Linked DNA regions of Homo sapiens. The protein of the gene in region 2 purifies or fractionates together with the protein of the main gene of each other region. This does not show direct contact. Each region holds a gene or a part of one and is shown on either strand. Other genes may lie near its edges. The genes, in order: C15orf39 and DYNC1I1.

Region 1 (3,818 bases), on a different chromosome or scaffold from region 2:
GAGTTCACGCAATTCTCCTGCCTCAGCCTTCAGCGTAGCTGGGATTACAGGCATGCACAACCATGCCTGGCTAATTTTTTTGTATTTTTAGTAGAGACAGCGTTTCACCATGTTGGTCAGGTTGGTCTTGAACTCCTGACCTCAAATGATCCGCACACCTCGGCTTCCCAAAGTGCTGGGATTACAGGTGTGAGCCACAGCACCTAGCCACCTCCCTGGACTTTCACACACGCCCCTGACGCTGTCTTGGCCCCACCCTGCCATGTGCCTAGGAATCGCCATCTGCAGCTTGGGGGCTGGGGGTGGATCCAGGCTCCTCATGCTCTGGGACCTTCCTGCTGGTGCTGCAGCACCATCTGCTGGGCTGCCCTGACTCCTGCGGAGGGGGAGGAGTGGGGCGAGAGGGGTGTGGCTTGTACAGACTGATGTCCCCAGTTACCTCTCCTAGGGGACTGCTCTCCAGAGCCAAGTCCAGTATCTCAGCATTGGCTTTGGGCCTAGGGACCTGGGCTGGAGGCCCGACTCTGCCATTTTTGACAAGATCAGCAGGTCAGAGGAGTGTCACAAGAAATCTGTGAATTTGTAGACAATACTCAGATTCCATGTTTTGGCTGCAGTGGGCATCACTGTGGCATCTTGGAATAGGACCCTGTGGTGGGAGGCAGGAGGCCTGCTTCTCGTTGTGTCTATTTCATTGGTGACTTTGGGATGAATGGGTCTCCTCATCTGTATATGAGGGGGTGGCGGCAGGGTATGTCAAGTGACCCTGAGACCCAGTGCCCCTACAAATTCTGAAATCCCAAGAAGGAGGGGATCTTGGGAGTTGTATGGAGGAAAATCGAACAGAAGGGGCTCCTGGAGTGGGGATGGGTGGGGGTTCTGTGTAGAATAATTCATTAAACAAAGGGTTCTGCAGCTTAAAATATACGAGTTGGGGTCAGGAGCAGTAGGTGGTTCATGCCTGTGATTTCAGCATTTTGGGAGGCCAAGATGGGAGGATCACATGAGTCCAGGAGTTCAAGACCAGCCTGGGTAACATAGTAAGACCCTGTTTCTACATAAAATACTAAAATGAGCCGGGTGTGGTAGCAGGCACCTGTGGTCCCAGCAACCTGGGAGTTGGGAGAATCACTTGAGCCCAGGAGGTTGAGACTGCGGTGAGCCAAGTTCATGTCATTGCACTCCAGCCCGGGCAACAGAGTGAGACCCTGCCTCAAAAAATACATACACGAGTTGGAAACCTCTGTCACGTGGCTCATGCACTCACAGTCTTAACTGAGCATCATTTAAGCGCCAGGTTCTTAGGTGTAGCCGTGAGCTGATGAGAGCAGCAGCCCTCTGTTGCTTTGCCTGTAGCCTGTTTTCCTGACAGCCCCTGCCTTTCTCTCTCTATCCCAGGTCAGAAGTTGAGTAGCAGGGGCCTAGGAGGGCTCGAAGCCTTCACAGCGATGGCAGAGAAGCGACCCCTGAGAACCCTGGGGCCTGTGATGTATGGCAAGCTGCCCCGCTTAGAGACAGACTCCGGGCTCGAGCACAGCCTGCCCCACTCTGTTGGTAACCAGGATCCCTGCACCTACAAGGGGTCCTACTTCTCCTGCCCCATGGCAGGTACTCCTAAGGCCGAGTCTGAGCAGTTGGCGTCCTGGACCCCATACCCACCCTTGTACTCTACCGGTATGGCAGGACCCCCACTTCAGGCAGACAACCTGCTGACCAACTGCCTGTTCTACCGCTCGCCAGCAGAAGGCCCTGAGAAGATGCAGGACTCCAGCCCTGTTGAGCTCCTGCCCTTCAGTCCCCAGGCTCACTCCTACCCAGGCCCACCACTGGCAGCACCCAAACCTGTCTACCGCAACCCTCTGTGCTATGGGCTCTCAACTTGTCTGGGGGAAGGAGCAGTGAAGAGGCCACTGGATGTTGACTGGACTCTGGCGACTGGGCCCCTGTTGCCCTCAGCTGACCCACCCTGCTCTCTGGCCCCAGCTCCTAGCAAGGGCCAGACTCTGGATGGCACCTTCTTGCGGGGGGTGCCAGCTGAGGGGTCCAGTAAAGACTCCTCAGGGAGCTTCTCCCCATGCCAGCCCTTCCTGGAGAAATATCAGACCATCCACAGCACGGGCTTCCTGGCCTCCAGGTACACAGGTCCTTACCCTAGGAACTCCAAGCAAGCAATGTCTGAGGGGCCCTCAAGTCCTTGGACCCAGCTGGCCCAGCCCCTGGGGCCACCCTGTCAGGACACCGGGCCCACCCACTACCCACCACCCCACCACCCACCACCCCACCCTCCACAGGCCCTGCCTTGCCCTCCAGCCTGTCGCCACCCAGAGAAGCAGGGCAGCTACAGCCCAGCACTCCCACTGCAGCCTCTGGGGGGCCACAAGGGGACCGGGTACCAGGCTGGTGGGCTGGGCAGCCCCTACCTGAGGCAGCAGGCAGCCCAGGCACCTTACATTCCCCCACTGGGGCTGGACGCTTACCCCTACCCCTCTGCCCCTCTCCCAGCACCCTCTCCAGGCCTCAAGCTGGAGCCGCCTCTCACTCCACGGTGCCCATTGGACTTTGCCCCCCAGACACTGAGTTTTCCTTATGCCCGGGATGACCTCTCTCTCTATGGAGCATCCCCTGGGCTTGGAGGGACACCACCTTCCCAGAACAATGTGCGGGCTGTGCCACAGCCTGGTGCCTTCCAGAGGGCATGCCAGCCTTTGCCAGCGAGCCAGCCCTGCTCAGAGCCTGTGAGGCCTGCACAGGAAGCCGAAGAGAAGACCTGGCTGCCCAGCTGCAGGAAAGAGAAGCTCCAGCCCCGGCTCAGTGAGCACTCTGGGCCGCCCATCGTCATCCGAGACAGTCCAGTTCCCTGTACCCCCCCAGCACTGCCCCCCTGTGCCCGGGAGTGCCAGTCTCTTCCACAGAAGGAGGGCGCAAGGCCACCCAGCTCTCCACCAATGCCTGTCATTGACAATGTCTTCAGCCTGGCCCCCTACCGTGACTATCTGGATGTGCCGGCACCCGAGGCCACAACTGAGCCTGACTCTGCCACAGCTGAGCCTGACTCAGCCCCAGCCACCAGTGAAGGTCAGGACAAAGGCTGCAGGGGGACCCTGCCTGCCCAGGAGGGCCCCTCAGGGAGTAAACCCCTAAGGGGCTCACTTAAGGAGGAGGTAGCCCTGGATTTGAGTGTGAGGAAGCCCACAGCAGAGGCCTCCCCTGTCAAGGCTTCCCGTTCTGTGGAGCATGCCAAGCCTACTGCAGCCATGGATGTGCCAGATGTGGGCAACATGGTGTCAGATCTGCCAGGCCTGAAAAAGATAGACACAGAAGCACCAGGCTTGCCTGGGGTGCCAGTGACCACAGATGCCATGCCAAGGACCAACTTCCACAGCTCTGTGGCCTTCATGTTCCGAAAGTTCAAGATCCTCCGTCCGGCACCTTTGCCTGCAGCCGTGGTCCCGTCCACGCCCACCTCAGCTCCTGCTCCCACACAGCCTGCACCCACCCCCACATCTGGGCCCATTGGACTGCGGATTCTCGCTCAACAGCCCTTGTCTGTGACCTGCTTCAGCCTGGCACTGCCCAGCCCTCCAGCCGTAGCTGTGGCCTCCCCTGCCCCTGCTCCAGCTCCATCCCCTGCTCCGGCTCGAGCTCAGGCTCCAGCTTCAGCCCGGGATCCAGCTCCAGCTCCAGCTCCAGTTGCAGGCCCTGCTCCAGCATCTACTTCAGCCCCAGGGGACTCCCTGGAGCAGCATTTTACAGGACTACATGCGTCCCTGTGTGATGCTATTTCTGGCTCCGTCGCCCACTCTCCTCCAGAGAAGCTT
Region 2 (3,818 bases):
GCTGTTAAGAGCAAGTGGAGTCTCACCAGGGGCCACTTCAAAGATCAGTTCCTCGGGTTCATTAGAACAAATTTAAATGATCATGTGTGGAACTGCTCTTAGCAGTTTCACTGGGCATAATTTTTGAGTGCCTGTTACATGGAACACGCACTGCCACACTTTGCTCATGATTCCAAATTTTGCTAAGCACATTGACATTTATTGGTGCTCCAGAGGCCCAAATGTTTTAATAACTGAGCTCGTTTTTATTCTTAGTGACATAATATTAGGATTCTACAATTCCTACATATTTGTCATATTTATAACCTCATGCACATGAATATTTTAAATATAGCATTTTTGGTATGTTTTCTCACATCTTCCTAATTGTATATGATTGCATGCAGAATACTATGTGATAATAGAGGGCTGCAAATAATAACAGCTTAGTTAAATAAGCAAGATATGTCTGTGTGTAATTTTTTAAATGTCTATCATTATTTCTCAAATGTGCTTCTGTTTTAAAAAAGGACTGAGACATAAGTTTGTCTCTTTTTCTTAGCTAGTTTATTCAACAAATATTTATTGAGCACTTACTATATGCCAGACACTTGGCAACAAGAAAGACAAGATACTTGCCCGTATGGGATTTACAGTGGATATGTAAATCTGTCTTCTGTTTTCAGTAAAGAGAAAACATTATTTTCTCCATATTATATTTAAATTATGTGCATTATTTTGTGGTGACAAGGGTTTCCACAAAGTGTTACATTTTCAGCTATGTTAAAGTAATTTAAGAAATTTACTTGAAAAAAATAAATGATTGTTCCTTCAAGGATGGATGGAGTTTTATAGTCAATAGGTTCCCCAAAAGGAGATAAAGCAGACCATGTGCAAAATGCTATCTCAAGAATAAAATAGTCTTATAAATATAAAAGCTTCAGAGACCTAAGTGTATTTGTTTCCATTAAAATAGCTGCATCAGCAATGATAGGCTTTGAGGAATTCTGCAAAAAGAATTAAATAATAAATATTGATATTAAATTCTGTATTTTAAAAAGATTTCATTGCCCTACATTGTTTTTAAATAATGAAAAATAGGGTAACATATTTGCAAACAATTTCTTTCAGGATAACTGTAAAAATGATTTCATTTTGGTGGTGTGTGGTTGTTCTAAATTATGGAGATGCAGAGTTGAGGGTTTTTTGTTTTGTTTTGTTTTTAAGCAATCATTGCTTTTCAGAGGTCACTGGAATTCTGCTCATGTGTGCTCTTCCTACAGCAAAGCAGGTATTGGTGAGGTCTTTGAAGGTCACCAAGGGCCAGTGACAGGAATTAACTGCCACATGGCAGTGGGCCCAATCGACTTTTCTCACCTGTTTGTCACATCATCATTTGACTGGACTGTCAAACTGTGGACCACCAAGGTAAGAATATCTTGACTGAAATTCTCAGATAATACATAAGGGCAGAGGATGGTTTTTCATTCCCTGGAAACAGTTGTCCCTAAAGCCTCTTCCAGGCAACCTGGCATTGGGAATTCATATACCTTCTGGTGAGCTCAGTCTACCTCAGAGCTAGTTAAGTCCATTTTATTTACTTTTACACATATAGGTAATACTTGAAAATATTCTAACTATAAAAAATTCAAACAATTCAAATAATGATAAAGCTGCAGTCCTCCTCTACCTACCCCAACCCCAACCCCATCCACAACACCCCCTTCACTGCCTGCACCTCAGTCCCCTCCCCAGGGGTAAACTTTTATCAGTTTCATGTCTATGTTCTGGAGCTTGGTGGTATCTACTTACTTACATATGTACCTATGGAAATATATGATTTGGGACTTGGGTTTTTTTTTGTTTGGTTCGTTGATTGGTTGTTTATTTTTATTTTGAGCTATTGGAAGTTTTTAAGCTGGTAAATGGCCCTATGTTATGTTTTTAAAGGTAATTCTGGCTGGGAGCTGTGGCTCACATCTGTAATCCCAGCACTTTGGGAGGCCGAGGTGGGTGGATCGCTTGAGGTCAGGAGTTTGAGACCAGCCTGGCCAACATGGTGAAGCCCCATTTCTACTAAAAATAGAAAAATTAGCTACATATGGTGGTACATGCCTGTAGTCCCAGCTACTCTCGAGGCTGAGGCAGGAGAATCACTTGAACCTGTCAGGCAGAGGTTGCAGTGAGCCGAGATTGGGCCACTGCATTCCAGCCTGGGTGACAGAGCCAGACTCCATCTCAAAATTAAAATAAAATAAAATAAAATAAAATAGTAAAATAAAATATAATTCTCTCCATGCTTGAGAGCAAGAAGAAAAGCTGAGACCACTTGGAAGGAAGGCACAATAATCTAGGAAAGAAATGACAGTGACTTAAACCAGTAGTCTGAGATGGAGAGAAATAAATGCATTTGAGAACCATTTAAGAGATAAAAGCCACAGAAACTGGTGATTGATTTGATAGAAGGAAGGTAGGAGAGGGAGTCATCAGCAGATAACCCAGGTTTAAGACCTGGGCAGCTGGTGAGTGTAGCACTCACTGCACTGGAGAACAGCAGGGGAAGGACATGCTGGGGCAGAGCTTTGCATATGTTGAGCTAAAGGTGCCCGGGAGAGGCATTTCAAGATCTCCATTAAGCAGTTTGATATGTGAGTCAGAAGAAGAGAGAGCCCTCCAAACAGAACGTATGCACTAGAATAGCAGTGATCTTCACAAATGAGTAGTTTTTTTTTTTTTTCTTTTTTTTGAAACATAGTCTCGCTCTGTCACCCAGGCTGGAGTGCAATGGCACTATCTTGGCTCACGGCAGCCTCTGCCTCCCAGGTGCAAGTGATTCTCCTGCCTCAACCTCCCTAGCAGCTGGGATTCCACAGCACACACCACCATGCCCACCTAATTTTTGTATTTTTAGTAGAGATGGGGTTTCGCATGTTGGCCAGGCTGGTCTTGAACTCCCAACCTCAAATGATCTGCCCGCCTTGTCCTGCCAAAGTGCTGGGATTACAGGCATGAGCCACCACACCTGGCCCAGCAGTGGATTTTAAAAGAAACACTAACATGCAATCTGGAGGGAGAGCAATACTTAGGAAATAAATAGAAATTGAACTAGAAAAGGGAGATGAAAAAGTAACCCAGGAAATAGAAGACAAATTAGAATTTTCTTTGCAGCTTCATGGGTATTAATGGAAAAAACCATGTTAAGAGGACAGAATTTGCTTTTAACTATATGAAAAGATAACAACCTCATTTATAAGAGAAATTAAAATTAAAACCAAGTTGAGAAACATATTTCCAACTATCAGATTGACAAAAATCTAAGTTTTGCAACATACTCTGTGATGAGGCCGAAAGAAACCAGCTGTTCTCATACATTTCCATTGGAAATGCAAAATGGCTCAACACTGTGGAAGAGGATTTAGCAATATCTAAAAATAATACATGTTTTAACAGAACAATTTCCACTTCTAGGAATCTATGCCAAAGATATACCAGCAAAAATAAGACAGAAGACATATGGAGAAGGACATTCACTGAAAGATTATTTGAATAGCAAAAGAATGAATACAACTCAAAAATCTCTATCAGTACAGTGCTGTGTGAATCAAAAGTATGGTACCTCCACCCAAGAGAGTAACATTATTCAGGTATAAGAAAAAATGAAGAAGACTTCTATGTTCTATTATGGAGTGATCCCTAAGATACATTTTTAAATGAGTAAAGCAAAGTGGAGAGAAGTGCAAATAGTATATTATCATTGTTTATAATTATATAATTAGAAGTTGAAAGGATAAACAAAAAAGTTACTTATAGCAAGACAGGAAGCTAAAAGAAAAAAATAA

Evidence for each region.
Region 1: the proteins of DYNC1I1 (region 2) and C15orf39 purify together in Homo sapiens (affinity purification with mass spectrometry; one large-scale study listed by BioGRID and IntAct). This does not show direct contact.

What each region holds. Positions count from the first base shown.
Region 1 is NC_000015.10:75,204,601-75,208,418, forward strand, and holds part of C15orf39 (uncharacterized protein C15orf39), read left to right. Parts: intron 1-1,398; 5' UTR 1,399-1,448; coding exon 1,449-3,818.
Region 2 is NC_000007.14:96,038,015-96,041,832, forward strand, and holds part of DYNC1I1 (cytoplasmic dynein 1 intermediate chain 1), read left to right. Parts: intron 1-1,262; coding exon 1,263-1,407; intron 1,408-3,818. UniProt on the Homo sapiens protein: Acts as one of several non-catalytic accessory components of the cytoplasmic dynein 1 complex that are thought to be involved in linking dynein to cargos and to adapter proteins that regulate dynein function.